2 separate regions of the Homo sapiens genome follow, and region 1 is linked to region 2. The links come from fine-mapping of genetic effects on gene expression. Tissue or cell type: whole blood. Region 2 holds a variant in brackets; the other region holds the start of a gene. All regions are shown on one strand. Distances are from middle to middle.

Region 1 (8,000 bases), 21 kb after region 2:
CCACTCATTTCCCTAGTCTATTTTACGACTTTGAACTCAGTATGCAAATTTATGCAAGACGAGATGCAAAGCAGTACTCTGAGCCAGAAGTCCCATTGCTTTTTCCCCCTTTTTTTTTGAAGCTGCACTGAACCACTGTAAATCAGTGCTTGCCTCTTCCCCCCTTTATTCTTCCCCGGCAACTGCAGATGCAGAGCCTCCCCAGGCCCGCCCGCCCGCCCGCCCGCCCGCCTGCCTGCCTGCCTGTCTGCCCGCCCTGGGACTTTGAACGACTACACATTTCTGTAGCACCTTTATACGTGCAGCGGGCCAAACGGCCACTCGGGCGGCCCCGCCCCTCAGCATAATCCCCTGCATTGTACACGGTAGGGAAGGAGGCTGGGGAGATACTGAAGGAACCGGTCTAGCCCAGCCTTAATTCTGAAAGGGCCTGGACTGGCCCAACCCTGTTCCCTCCTCGACCCTGACATTTCTAGGCACTTCTATCCACTCCACCACCAAACACATACACACGCTTTTAGAGTCCCAACTTCAAGCAGATCTCAGGGTCTCCTTTCGGTTTTTCTTCTAGGCCTACCCACCCCTTCCCCCAAGACTGACTTCTCAGTTTCTTTGAACCAACAAGCCCCAGCCCATCGTCCCCGTGGGATACAGGCTCACCACCACCCACTCCTTCCACCCACTGATGTGCCCACCCCCACCCCTGCATCCTTGCCATCCCCAGGAAGCCAGCAGCAACACAGCCCCTGAGTCCCGGGAACAAAGACAAAAGAGCTAACAGCAAAGCCGGAACTGCTGAGGTTCGCTGCCTCGAAATAAGAGGGTATGTTTAAAATTCTCAAAAGCAACCTGCTCAAAGAGGAATGCAGGCTGGAGGGGGGGTGCTCATTCTTCGGAGAGGAGAGAAGACGGGACGGGAGATGGAGTGGGAGGCAGAGGATTCAGTGCTAAGATCTCCGTCTGGGCCAGGCCCCACCCAACTCGGACCCAGCACTCTCCATCCAGTGACTCCAGTCTCTGCCCCAGCCTAAGACCCTCTCCCACACAAAAGCCTCCAACCTTGACCCCTTTTTCTCCTGCACCCTTGCAAGCTCAGGCTCCTTCCCAAAGTGCTCCCCTCCCCCAGCCCGACTCTTTCTCAGGCACCCCTGACATTGGTCACTTCTTTTGAGTGCACCCACTCAGCTTCCAGCCCCACCCCCCACCTTCCACCCCTGCTTAACATCCCCTCTTCCCAGGCCGGTGCACAAAAATGCGGAAGGCGTCTGGGCACTGGGGAGGAGAACGCAGCTGGGGCAAGCTGGCGGAAGGGAGTCCCATAACCAGGCAGAAAATCCAGAGTGACATTCTTCCCATGAACTCACCCCATTGTCCCTGGCCTCCCCTGACAACTACCCCCCACCCCCTTCAGGCTCCAGGGAAAAGTGAATGGGAGAAAATCTGCCGCATCTGTTCCTGGCTAAAGACCCTAACCGGCTTCAGGGATTTGGGAAGTAGAATTGGTTTTCAGGCTTAGAATAAGACGAATGAAGAGTAGGAAAAAAAAAAAAGTAAAACGTTAAAGAAGGAAAGGCATCACACACTTTATTAAAACAGTCAGCAGCCAAACCATCCTATGAACTTAGAGGCCTTTCAAAAAGTTCACCCTGCTGAGGAAGATGTTTAGTTTGTCAGAGTTCAGCTCAGAAACTGCACAGCACCTCCCCGGTGGACCACGAGGGGTGATGAGGAGGAACGCATGACTGGGGGACAGGCACCCCGCAGTGAAAGGATTTCGTGGGGGCTTTTTCCTTTTATTGTTACTTTCTAAGAGAAGCAGGAGGGAAGGGTTAACTTCCAGGCAGGCTAGGGAAGGAAGCGAGCCGAGGGAGAAGAAAGGGACTGAGAGGCTCCACTCAGAGGAAGCCCTAACTTGCTCTGTACTCCAGAGCAAAATGTGCTAGAGAAACAGAAGAAAGATTTCAACTCTGACCCCTAATTCCATTCTCAAGGAGAACAGGGAAAAAAACAATAGCCGACCAGGAGAAGGGAGGCGGGTTGGTGCATGGGGTGGGGGGCTTACGAAGACCTCAGAAGCTAAAAAGCAAGCATTCTTCTTTTCACTTTTTCTTTTTAAGTTTGAGAAACTTAAGACTCACTTGCTTTTTCAACAACAGCAGCAGGCAGTGGACACATTTCACCACTGTCTCCAAGAGGAAAGAAAATAATTACAGCTTCCTCCCGACCACTGGGGCAGGAGGCTTTCGTAATTAAAAAAAAAAAAAAGTAACCTCCTTAGAGCCTGGTTGTGTCCCTCAAATAACTTTTTGGGAGGGATGAGGGCCCCTGAACAAAGAATATCGGGTCCTCATTCTATCCTACAGGAAAGGGTCCCTCAATTTAAGATAGGGGCGGGGGTGGGGGGTGGCAACGCATCTCTCCTGCCTTTCGATCTGGGGCCCAGATGCGAAACCGCACAGCCTGGCTGCCCCCGTCCAGGGAATGCAGCCGGCGATCGGGCTTAAGTTACATTGATTCAGCTGCTAGGAGACCCCTCGCCTACCAAATGCCTCCCTTTTATTTTTCCATTCAACGTGGTAGCAAGAGCCCTGCTCGTTCCCTATGGAGAAATAGTAGTGGTGGTTTTCATTTTTCTCCTAAGCGACTCATCCTACAAAGTACCAAGTCCTTTCTTTCCAACTCACAACCCCAGTAGAAGGAAGGGCCCCTTGGGACGCCGGTGCCTCCTCCTAGCTCCCTCTCCTCTTCCAAGGTTCCTGGTGTCACTGGCACCCCGCAGCCTCCGCCTCCCAGCAGCGATCCCACCAGGACCCTTGGGTCCTCAAGCAGTGCCCCAAATAAGATTCGAGTTCCTACTCCCATGGATCTGACCACCGGCCCCCTTCTCAGCAAATCCCTCCTCCAGAATAGAAGTCTGGGTCCGTTCCACGCGGGTAAAACTATGGCAGCAGGGATGCCTTTCCTCTCCCCATTCATCCCCACCAAATGAGTCGCCAGGGCTCTTCCACTTGCTCTAACTCCAGTTCCCCTCCCCGGGCCTGACTTCCGCGTCCCGCTAGCAACAGTCCCCCTTGATTTGGTCCAAGGTCTCGGCTCTGCCGCCCCTAAAACCGTCCGTAAGGTCCAGCCGCCCGTCGGGCTTCTCCGCTGCCCTCCAAGTTTCTCCCAACTACTTGTTCCAGACCGCGTTACCTGCAACCTGCTCCGGGCTGGCGCCATACTCGGCGTCCCGGCGCTTCTCACAAGTGCCCTCGCCCATGACCAGCGCCTGCAGGGGCAGCTCGGAGCCCGGGTGGGGATAGCAGCGCAGCCCCTGGCCGCAGCGCGGGGTGTAGACGCCGCACGCCTCGCCCTCCAGCCGGGCGCACACCGAGCAGCAGCCGCAGCCCGGCTCCCGGACGAGCTCCGCGCATGGCATGCGGGCGCCTCCGGCCACTGCGGCCACCGCGGCGGGCGGCGCAACCGGCGGGGGCCCGCAGGCGGCCAGGCGCTCGGGTGTGCAGGGCGGGCAGCGGAACAGCACCTCCGCGCGCGCCCCGCCGCCGCCGCCACTCGCGCCCAGTAGCAGCAGCAGCAGCGGCAGCAGCGGCGGCGGCGGCAGCGGCAGCGCGGGGCAGCCCACTCTCGGCAGCATGCTGGCGGTCGGCAGCGCGGCGCGGCGGGCGAGCGAGCGAGCGGGCGGGCGGGCAGGTGGCACGGCCCTGCGAGCGCGGGAGCCGCCTCCTCCGCTTCTTCCTCCTCCCTCGCCGCCGCAGCCGGGTCCTAAAGGGCCGGCTTCTCCCCGCCCCCTGCCTTCTCCCCTCCCCCTTTTGGAGACCACTCCCTTCCCCCCCGACACTCCCTCGCGCCGGCAAGTGAGTGCGCGCACGCCCGCTCGCCCACCTCCGCGTTGGCTGCGGGCTCTGGGGGTTCCCTGCTCTTCCCGGGCCCCGTCCCTCCGCACTCTTCTGGCCTGACTATGACTCCTGAAGGAGAATACGGATAACTCGCGGGTTTGGGTAGGACCGGCGTGGCGGTGGAGAAGAGCGCGTGCTTTTGTCTGCTCTCAGTTCAGTTCGCGAGGACTTCGTTTGCGCGCTTCCCCTGTGGCCGGCACTGGGCTAACCGCTGGGGAACACAAAAGACATAAGGCTCCGTTTTGACCTTCAAGTAGATTTCAGTCGGCTCATACCAACTCCTTCCATCCTGGGGTATCACCCACCACTGACACGTGGCTTGGAACAATGACTTCTTGTTGGGTGGGTCCTGCGGAGTTTCAGACCCGTCTAGACCAAGCTAGACCCAAACAGCCCCGAATGGTCTTAGTGACTATTGCAGTTTTCCAAACCTGGGAGCTCGTGACTACAACCTATGAGAACCCTAAGTGCCCCGCAAAACCTGCCCCCTTCGTCTGCAGACCCCCTCCCTTCTCCGCCCGCTAAAATAATCCCTTAGCACCCTGGGCCCCCACCTACAAATCTCGAGGCACTTGTTGCAGGACAGATCCCAGAACACTCAGTTGCAGGGGTCTTGGAGAGGTCAGATCAGCTCTCCAGGTGTGACAGACCCGCTCTGGGGTAAGGCCATTTATGGCTGTCTTCAATAATGCAGATGGACAAGCATGACCTCCTTTCATTGTTCTGTTTGATTTACTGAGTCATCTACCCAAGCTGCCCCCAACCCCCATCATTCCAGGCTGGACTCAGCCATAATCAACCATCTCCTGGGGTGTGACCCTAACAAAGACCCCTGTCAGAGAGATTCCTTGGGTGACAGGTGGACCATTAAGCTGCCTCCACCGCAGGTTTCATCTCCCTATACCTCAGCGCCCCTCTTCCCCCCAGACCCCTCCACTCTGGCTCTTTCTGACTTCAAGGCTCAGAGCCTGTTTGATTCAGTTCAACAGCTAGTTAACCCAATGGCCACCTGGCTCTGAAGGTGACCTAGATGCCTCCAGGAAGGCAAGTACCTGGTCTTAAGACGCCAAGCTGGGAAGAGTTATCGGGAAAGACTTTGGTAAGATAAAAAATAAATAAATAAATGTTTATCAGAGGCTTTGAAGAAAAGAAATATTTTGGTAGAGAGGTGATGTGGTGGTTGAGGAAAGGGGAGTTTCTTGGGTGAGTCGGAGCTGAAATTGAAGCTTGTAATTCTACCAGAGGAAATGGGCGGTTAGCAAGGGCACAGGCAGAGGGACCACCTGAAGCAAAAACACAGAAATGGGGCCGGGCGCGGTGGCTCACACCTGTAATTCCAGCACTTTGGGAGGCCGAGGCAGGTGGATCACCTGAGATCAGGAGTTCAAGACCAGCCTGGCCAACCGTGGCCAACATGGTGAAATCCCATCTCTACTAAAAATACAAAAAATAGCCAGGCACGGTGATGCACGCCTGTAGTCCCAGCAACTTGGGAGGCTGAGGCAGGAGAATCGCTTGAACCCAGGAGGTGGAAGTTGCAGTGAGCCAAGATCGCACCACTGCACTCCAGCCTGGGTGACAGAGTAAGAATCAGTCTCAAAACACACACACACACACACACACACACACACAGAGAGAGAGAGAGAGAGAGAGAGAGAGAGAGAGAGAGAGAGAAATGGGAAAATGAGTTTGGGGATCAGAAAGTCCACTTCAGCCAGAGTGCAGGATGCTTGCAGAGAGCAGCAGGGGAGGCAGGAAATCCAGTTGACTGTGGCGCTTTGGCTTAATATGCTGGGCAGTAAGGATACAGCATCCATGTTTGAGCAGAGGAAGAGATGGACAGAGCTGGACTTCTGGAAATCATTAGCACTATGTAGAGTGCCGATCTGAAAAAAAAGTAAAAAAAAAAAAAAATCGTTAGCACTATGTAGGGTGCCGATCTGAAAAAAAAAAAAAAAAGAAGTAAAAAGCACTATGTACAGTGCCAATCTAAAAAAAATAAAAATAAGACACAGGAAGGATCATGGTCATTCCACCTTCATTCTCCCTGGTGTCTCCTGCCTGCTTTGTAACGTGTTTCTGTTGGTCCCACCCACTGAGCTCCTACAGAGTAGGCACAGGGTCTAGCACAACGCTGTCCAATAGAAATCTACTGCAAATCGCAAACGTGAGCACATGTGCAATTGTAAATTTCTAGTAGCCATATTAAAATATAGTAAAAAGAAATAGATGACATTTATTTTAATAATATTCTTAATTTGGCGGTATATCCAAAATACTATCATTTCAATGGGTAATCAACACTAAAATTAATGAGAGAGTTAACATTCCTTTTCTTATACTAAATCCTCAAGTTCTGATGTGTATGCTATACAGCACATTTCAGTTTGAAGTAGCCAAAATTCAAATGTTTGATAGCCATGTGTGGCTAGGTAGCTATCAAATTGGACAGCCCACAGGTCTAAATACTGCCTGGCACCAGGTAAGCACTCAATAAATATTTGTTGAGTGAATGAAAAGTACAGTCTCTCAAAATATTCCTGGCAGGGCCCCTCATTCTCTTTCTGTCTTAATTGCAATGCCCAGGAGCTGGGAATGAAAGGCTGTGATGAGTCTATTAAGAGGCTAAGAGTGGCATTGATTCATTCATTCCCATGCAGCTACTCACTTATCTTTTGGGATTCATTCTCTTTCCACCTCCTTTTAAAGTTCTTGATCTTTCAGCCAAGAGCAGTGGAGATGAGCAGGCAAAGTGATGCTGACTTGACAAATGCAAAGTACTCAATGATATTTCACTTTCTAATGAGCCTGAAGGCCACACCCAATTCTTTTCTCCTAGTTCCCAGGTTAATGGCCAATTTTACCCTTCCCCACCCTAAATACACGCAAACACATAACAAAATAATCCCATATTTTTAAGGCTTTTCCTAACCTCTCCTGAGCCTCACTCAGAATCCCACTCCCCAAAGGCCAGCTGCTACAGAGGCTTGAATCACAGAGCATCCTCAATCCATTGAAGCCTAGAGAAGTAGGGGGACTCAGCCCAGAACCCAGAGCTGGTTACTGGCTGGCCTACAACTTAACCATTTTGCTTATTACTGTAGGCCCAGGGCTAGAACGGTGCCTGCACAGAGATACTCAAAGAATATTTGTTGAGTGAATCCAGGTTCTCCGCTTGTTGTCTCTGGCTTTGCCCATCCCATTGTTCCTGGAGCATTCTTCACTTTAGATTTCTCATGAGTCCTCTGCAAAGGTATGTCCTCAGGCTTGAGAGCCTGTCTGTGCCCAGCAGTGAGGATTGGTTGAGAGATGGGGACAGGCTAAGACTGGTTTTCTCCCTTCCCCTTAATCCCTGCCTTTTTCCATCTCAACCACGTTTTATAAACCCCACCCTTACATGGTTTACCGTAACTAGGTACCACCTGTACTATTATTTACATAATTTTTTTAAAGTAAGGCAATTCACTCTTTTTTTTTTTTGCTTACGATCATTTTTAAAAGAAATTGTATATCACTACCATAAATGGAAATGTAGTATTGATGGCCATCTATAGATGGTAACCATAAAACACAATGAAAACAAGACAATGTTATTTGATTCGAGCTGGATACTGTTGCCTGCTGAAGCTTCTGAAGCTGGCACACTCTTCCCAAGTTAAGAAAGATGAGACAATTTAGAAGAAGCATTCAAGTTAAGTCAAACCCAAGCTGAGATTTTCTCCACTAAGTCATCAGGAGAGGAATGTTTTTTAAAAATATTTTATTGAAATATACATGCAAAAAAAAGTAGATAAACCAGATAAATATCCACAAATTGACCGCACCGTATAACCAGCTCCCAGATCAAGAAGAACATTGGCCAGGCACAGTGGCTTACGCCTGTAATCTCAACACTTTGGGTGGCTGATGCAAGAAGATCACTGGAGCCCAAGAGTTCAAGACCAGCCTAGGCAATATGGTGAAACCCCGTCTCTACAAAAAATAAAAAAATAAGCCAGGTGTTGCGCATGCCTGTAGTCGCATGCCTGTAGTCGCAGCTACTCAGGAGGCTGAGGTGGGAAAATCATTTGAGCCCAGGAGGTAGAGGCTGCAGTGAGCTGTAAT
Region 2 (8,000 bases):
AACAAAACATACAAACTCCGGGTACATTTTGTGTGTGGCAAACAATGAATGCCCCTCAATGAACCCTGGGGATTTCCATGTCTTACAGCCCAAAACAAGAATTACGTTGATGACGATGATCTTGGGACATCAAAAAGGGGAGGGAATTAAAATTCTACCTATTCATCATTTTAAAAGACTTTTATCCAAAATTGTTGAACTCCAGGAAAAAAAAAATTTAAATGTTAAATGTATAAACCTGAAACCTGGAAAAATATTTTATTTAGAATGGTTATTCCCACAGGGGCTCTGGGGAGCCTGGGTTGTACCATAAATGAAGCCAGCACAGATTAAATTGTTCCAGCAGCCCGGCAGCCCAGCACCACCGGCAGGAAAAGGCCGATTTAGCGTGCGCCTCCAGGCTAGGTTGGAGTCCTGCTCCACCATGTCTAATCAGACCCAGGCACCAGCCCACAGCTTTCCTCATCCATCCTGCCCTGCCCTCTGTGCTCCTCCACATGGAGAGCAGCAGACACCCAGGGACCCAGAGAGGCAGGCTGAGTGAGTGCCCCTGCTCAGCTGCCTGCCAGGTTCCCAAGAACAGGGACGCTGAGTCACCCCACCGTGCGGCAGATTTCTTCAGCGCCACCAGGTCCACACCCTCCTAGAAGAGCCCCCCTTCCCTCTTCAGATGGACCCCAGAGGTCAGAAACAAAAGGGTGAAAGAGAAAGGCCGGGGAAAGTCTGAGATCAGACAAACCTGGACAACAAACAGAAGAGATCAGGTTCAGTCAACTTTCCATCTCAACACTGACCTCTAACGCAGCACACAGATGCCGTGCAGCGCACGCACTCATCCCCAGCCTCCCTGCCTCCGCCCCGCTGCCCTTCCCAGACAGGCCTCTCTGTCCCCAGACCTGAGTGGGACCATCTCAAGCTCCCTGCCCCTGCCCTCTGCAGACACCAAAAACACAGGAGGAGAGCAAAGTAGCTAGAAAGTCTCCCCACTCCCACCACCTGCATTGGAACATAGAGAAGAGCCCTTTGACTCCCTCCCAGCTACTCAGGATCAAAATGAGAAAGACAAAATGAAGTGGGAACCTCCAGTTCGCCCTCACCCGAACCCTTGGTACCTGAGATCACCCTTGGCATCACCCTGCTTACCGCACCCTACCCAGCTTTGTGCCCACAGAGGCAGGAAGGGTTTCTGGAGACCTCGACACCGCATTCTGCTCACAGGGTGTTAGAGAAGACAGGAGCTCTGGGAGTCTGCTGGTACTGCACCCTGCCACCATTTCTGGAACTCTCCAATCTGTGGACATGAAGTCTGTGATGCTCAGAGGCTCACCTGGCTCTGCCCTCTTGGGAAGTGGCTTGGGTGAAGGCAGACAGTCTCTATTATGGCTATAACAACACGTTGTCTGGTTGGAGACGGGAAAGGCAGCTCATGTGTACCTCTATCCATGAGCTTCTGGGAAGGAGCCGCTCACCCGAACTCAATGCCTGGAACATCCAGTGTACTCCAGATGTTGGGCAGCATTCCTGGCCTCTACCCACCAGAAACCAGTAGCACCCTCCCCAGGTTGGAACAACAAAAAATGTGTCTTCATTCGTTGCCAAATGGCCCCGGAGAGGCAAAACTGCCCAGGGTGAGAATCACTCTTCTGGAGTCAGGCTTTTAGCCCAAGACCTGTAAGCTGATAGCCCATTGCTGAAATGGCTCCAGGCCCCATATAAAGCAAATCTAGCTCCACTATATTCCGCATCCACGGCTAAGACCCCTCCGCTACCCTTCCATCTGCAGCCACAATAGTCCACAGTTTCTTGGGGGCAGGGCACAGGATCTTCCCTGGGCTTCCTAGAGGACTTTCAGCCTGCAGCTCCCCATCTTCACGAAGCCCTCTTGTACCACAGACAGTGGCCAAAGAACCATCCCTTGGCTGCGTCCCAGAGGTCAATCCAACATTAATCCTCAGAAGAAGGCCCTCTGCAATCTCTGGAAACACATTTGAAAAAGGAGAGGGGCACACACAGATAAATGTGCATTCGGGCCTGAAGGCGCCAGGCAGGGCCAACTTGTCCATTGGGCTCTGGAGGCACAGTGCCTAGGACATATTTTTATTTCTATTAACATCAGAAAAAAAAAATAACTTTTAGGTTAAAAAGTCTTACTATATAATATTAATACATTTGCATTTATTAAACAAGTTATAAAATATGGTTTTTTGATTTTTTTTTTTTGTTTTTTTGAGACAGAGTATCGCTCTGTCACCCAGGCTGGAGTACAGTGGCACGATCTTGGCTCACTGCAACCTCCGCCTCCTGGGTTTGAGCAATTCTCCTGCCTCAGCTTCTCGAGTAGCTGGAACTACAGGCATGTGTCACCACGCCTGGTTAATATTTGTATTTTTAGTACAGACAGGATTTCACCATGTTGGCCAGGCTGGTCTTGAACTCCTTGCCACAGGAGGCCCACCTCGGTCTCCCAAAGTGCTGGGATTATAGGCATGAGCCACCACGCCTGACTGTATTAGTCCATTTTCACACTGCTATAAAAAACTGCCTGAGACTGGGTAATTTATAAAGGAAAGAGCTTTAATTGACTCACAGTTCAGCATGGCGGGGAGGCCTCAGGAAACTCACAATCGTGGTAGAAGCCAAAGGTCCGGGAAGCAAGGCACCTTCTTCACAAGGTGGCAGGAAGAAGTGCCAGGTGAAGCGGGGAAGAGCTCCTTATAAAACCATCAGATCTCAGGAGAACTCACTCGCTATCACGAGAACAACATGGGGGACCCACCCCCATGATTCAGTTACCTCCACCTGATCTCTCCATCAACACCTGGGGATTATGGGGATTACAATTCAAGATGACATTTGGGTGGCGACACAAAGCCTAACTATATCACCTTGTCTCTGCTAAAAATAAAAAAATAGCCAGGCATGGTGATGCACACCTGTGGTCCCAGCTACCTGGGAGGCTGAGGTGGGAAATTACTTGAGCCCAGGGGTTAGAGGCTGCAGTGAGCCATGATCATGCCACTGCACTCCAGCCTGGGTGACAGAGTGAGCCCCTGTCTCAAAAACGAAAAATAATAATTTTTAAATTTTAAAAATATATGTTTTTATAGAAGGGCCCACAGAGGCAGTGTCCAGGGCCCACAGATGTCATATGCAACCCTGGCTCCAGGTCCCAGGAGGCTGGGGTCAACTTGGCAGTGTTCCTCCAGGAGGACAAAGTTGATTTCCTGCCCTGAGATGTCCCAAACTCTCTGAGGTGAAGGTCAAGTTTGTCCACCCTCACAGAGGCCACCTGGATTCAAGGGTATGTTTCATTCCATTTCTTTATTGATCTCAGCAGTGCCAACGAACATGCCAATAAGATGAAGAAATCCACAGGCCTGGTTTGCTGATGCAAGGTCTTTTAAAGATGGTTTAACAAGACCATGCATCAGCATCTGTTTCTTTCTCAGGAAGAGGCTTCTGGACTCAAATCCCGTAGCCAGATCTGAACTCCACATCTTGAAGTAGAAGCCCAGGGAAGGGAAATGAAAGAGTTGACCAGGCAGAGATCAGAAAGCATTGTAGGCTGAGAAAAGCCTGCATTCCTTGTTACTGTTCCCAGCCAAAGAGATTCAAACCCCAAAATCTAACTGCCTGAGTTGGAATTCAAGCTTTTACTACTGAGCTGTGCAGCACCAGACAACTTTCTTAAGCTCTCTGTGCTTCCATTGTTCATCTGTAAAAGGACAAACAGTATGCACCTCCTATGGGCAACTGGGAGGATCCAAAGAGATGCTGCCTGCATCTACAGAGAGGGCCTGGCACACAGTAGGCACACATGGGGTTAGCTCTTAGCCACTTCCATTTCCTGCCTACCAGGAAGTACCCACATAGCGCCCCTCCTCCCCTCAGTCAGACAAGGGCAT[T/C]ATCACATGTTACCAAGTTCTTCCCATATATCCTCTTATAGGCTGCAAGAACAATCCACAGGAAAACATTCCAGATGTCGAACTCCAGCTAGAGATGGAATTTGCCCTCAGAACAAAAATACCAAGTTGTATTTTTTTTCTGCCTAAGAGAGTTAAGTTCAGAATAATATTTATTAAGCAACCACTTATGTATGCAACTCCATGGGCTATGGTGCAAAGGTCACTATAAGAAATGGTTCTTAGCAACCCCAAATGACATCAATGGAAAAGGCTCATGGGCTTAGAAATGGTTGATAGAAACCTCCAAGGCCCCTGAAGAGACTTTCCCTGTAGATTAGTAAGCATTAGCTCTTCTTCCCTACATAGCACCTAGGGAAATGGGTCAACACAGAAGCAAGGGATTTCACATATAGAAGGTCAAGCTTTTCCAAAGAGAAGTCAGGGAGATGACAGACAACCCCAGAGCCATTAGTCGGGGGCTTGAAGGGCAGGGGAGAACTCCCACCCCTGCCTTGGGTAGACTGCCACACCTTTCTACCTAAGACCCCTAGAGGAGAGCTGGAGATGAGGAAGGCAGATGGGATGAAAAGAAATGGATCGTTGTCCCATTTTACAGATGGCAAACCTGAGCCCAGATGGACTACCATTTGAATTCACAGGAGCAAACAACCTCTCTGCCATTCTTCACAATTATCATGGGGTCCCTACATTGTCTTTTGGCCCACCCTTACTAATTTAGCCAAGGAGAGCAGCTGGAAGCTGACAGCCCAAGAGAAAGAGCCTTTATTGTTCACTTCTATGCATTCATACCCAGGTTTTCAGACCTAATTTTGGCACAGCTCATTTTTCCAATGTAATCCTGTTTGTTGCATCAATGATCTTACTCAACAAATCAAACTCTTGTGTTTGATAGAAACGGACTCCCACAAAATCTCATTTTCTCCTAGCACAATGTTCTGACCTCAGTGCTCTATTTGGAAATTGGTGATTCCTGATCTAAGAGAGACCTTAAAAAGCTTTCTTAGGAAACTAAGCCCCAAGAATCTAAAAGCACCTCCCTGGTCCTTCCTCCTCAGAGTGTGTGGCCCCGGTCCTTATCCAGACCTGGTGAGGAAATAAGACCTTTTCCCTACCTAGAACAATCACATCTTCCTAACAGCTCATGTGTCTCTCTTCTTTCTTCTTTTCTTTATTCTGAAGAAAGACTTACCATTTTCCAGCCTTCTCCTCCTATCTCATGATTATCTTAAAATCTAAGAGCAGGGTTGGGAAAGAGGAGTACCACAGAGATGATCTAAGCCAACCCTGAACTTATCATTCCTCCAATGAACTCACCTCTTGCAACAGGTAATAGCATTCCAAGCCTTTCAAGAGTTAATTCTGAGTAATGGGCCAGGGGAATGAAGGCTGGCCGCAGCTTCCTGGTTCCACCCTAGCTGGGCAGAAAACTCACATGGCTCCGTCTTTGTTAATTTCTCCCAAAAGGCACTTAGCCTTGACATATGTTGGGCAACAGAATAAATACTAACCACCATCCTCCTCCCCCTGCTCTCTAGACGACTCCATTAATATCCATAGCAGTGGACGATTCATTAACAAACTGGAATGAGCAATGAACCCAGCAGTCAAGAACCCTGAATGCCAGCTTTGCCCTTTGAGATTCACTCACGAGTCAGAACCTTTAACCTCTCTGAGCTCTAATTTCTCAAGTCTGAAAAATGATATTAACAATTCTGCTAAGGGGCGGGGCGCGGTGGCTCACGCCTGTAATCCCAGCATTTTGGGAGGCCGAGGCGGGCAGATCACCTGAGGTCAGGAGTTCGAGACCAGTCTGACCAACATGGAGTAACACCGTCTCTACTAAAAATACATAAAAATTAGCCAGGCATGGTGGCGCATGCCTGTAATCTCAGCTACTCAGGAGGCTGAGGCAGGAGAATCACTTGAACCCGGGAAGCGGAGGTTGCAGTGAGCCAAGATCGCGCCATTGCGCTCCAGCCTGGGCAACAAGAGCAAAGCTCAGTCTCAAAAAAAAAAAAAAAAAAAATTCTGCTAAAATGATGGCTGCTGTTAAACAAGACATGGTATTTTTACCCCTGACAGCCCAAGAAACTCTCACTGTGGCCAAAACCAAGCTTTAGAAAAAAATGTGTGGTGGCCAGGCATGGTGGCTCATGCCTGTAATCCCAGCACTTTGGGAGGCTGAGGTGGGCGGGTCATTTGAGGCCAGGAGTTCAAGACCAGCCTGGCCAACATAGCAAAAACCTGTCTCTACCAAAAATACAAAAATTAGCTGGGCATGGTGGCACATGCCTGAGGTCCCAGCTACTTGAGAGGCTGAGGCACAAGAATCGCTTGAACCCAGCAGGCGGAGTTCACTTCTTGCAGTGAGCCAAGATTACACCACTACACTCCAGCCTGGGCGACAAAGCAAGACCTTGTTTCAAAGAAAAAGGAATGTGTGAACAATCAATTTCTTGAATGGGTAAATAAAAGTTATATCTGCCATGTGAGGGGAAGGCTAGGTAATGTCTGATTTGTAGAATGGCCAAATGCATGGAAAAAATGAGTCATGAGAGTTCTGCAATATGATCTATTGCATATTTCTTCTAAAGCTTGGTTTTGATTGTACAAATTTTATACATTGCTAAATATCAAAGCTCTCTGCCATTTAATAGAAGTCCTTAAGCAAGAATGAATTTGCCTAAATTACTTTAACTTTGTTTACAGAATTTAGCGGGAGGGACAAAGGGAAGGAGGTCAGGCAGTAGCTCATAATCACCACGCATGCTCAGTTGAGACAGGGCTCATAAACACGCCAGCACATACAAGAAACAGCTTTTGTTGGAGAGAATTTGAAGCCAGTCCTCTTTGGATGGCTGATGGTGGTCACCAAACTCCATCTAGCATGTGGCCACTATGTTCAATAGCACAGCCCACCAACAGGCTGGGATTAGTAATTCAGGCCATGCTGGTGGGAGGGAGGGAGGCAGAAGTTAGGAAAGAGGAAGGTAAAATGGGGGTTCTATTTGTTACTTCTTTAGCTAAAGTTTAACCTGAGGTCCTGAGACTTTGTGGGTGAGTGACACTGTTTATGTGTCTTCCCCTGACTTTTTTTTTCAAAAGGTCAGAGGGGGCAGTGGCCTCTCACACTGGAATTCTGAATAGTGTGCACAGATGTCTGTCGCGGTATAGGCTGGCACTCAGGACACATTCCAGCTTAGTTAATGACATCACCCCAACTGGTCCATCTATCTCCTGAGGACACCCAGCTTCATTCATTGTAAACTCCCTTCCTATTCCTTCTCACCCCCTGAGCCCTTCCTTCCTGCAAGGGAGCCAGCCATGCAACACCTGATATCCTTCCATCCTTCAGCAACAGACCAGTCACTTCTGAGCATGGTTTTCCAACAGGTGGTCCCTCCTCTCCCAGTTTCCTTTGTGGTAGTAAATAACTGCAAACAGCCTTCTCAGATGTTTCAGATCCACAAGTCCCCTAGGTTATAAGATCACACGACTGCAAGAACTGGCCTTTCTCTTCTGAGAATCATCTCCCTCCACCTGCAGCTACCACAGGCCAATCACCCAGCTGAGTGCGGAAGAGCTCAGTGACCTCTGTTGAGTGGCAAGCCCAACAGGCACAGGCTACTGCCCTTCCACGGTGACAAAACACCTACAGGAGATGATGCACCACCAAGGGAGGGCAGAGAGCCCCCACCTGGCCGATGAATCCCCTCCACGTCAAACCACTCTGCAAACTCTTTTTGGATTTCCTTTGGAGCACCAGCTTTTGGGTTCGAAGCCTTGGCCAAGCAGTCCCAGTGTGGGAGGAAGGACTGAGGTTCGATCCTGACTTCACCACCACCCCTGGGATTCTGAGTGACGCTAAGCAGGGTGTTCAACTTGCGCAGGTGTCAGTGTACTCATCTGTAAATTCAGGGAATTAGACCCAGTCAGAAGTTCCCAAACATAGCTCTTCATCAGAAATCATCTGATGAGCTTGCTAAAAATAAGAGCCCTGGACCCCAGCCCCAGAAAGTCAGAGGCAAGGACTAAGGAATCTGTATGTTGAATGATACCTCTCCTCTCAAGCTC

What was found. PIP is the estimated chance that this variant, and not a neighbour inherited with it, causes the effect.
Region 1: IGFBP2 starts here. The variant in region 2 is fine-mapped to the expression of IGFBP2 in whole blood (TOPMed, PIP above 0.99). The same link has a PIP of 0.9 or more in blood mononuclear cells.

The regions. Positions count from the first base shown.
Region 1 is chr2:216,629,158-216,637,157 of GRCh38, reverse strand. It overlaps IGFBP2 (insulin like growth factor binding protein 2), which reads right to left and starts at 3,738. Exons shown (of 4, transcript NM_000597.3): 1 at 3,193-3,738. The coding sequence starts at 3,634.
Region 2 is chr2:216,650,123-216,658,122 of GRCh38, reverse strand. The region is part of intron 1 of IGFBP2 (insulin like growth factor binding protein 2); the gene reads right to left. Among named protein-coding and RNA genes, the nearest start is that of IGFBP2, 21 kb to the right of the region's middle. The variant T/C (reference allele first, on the strand shown) is at 3,906.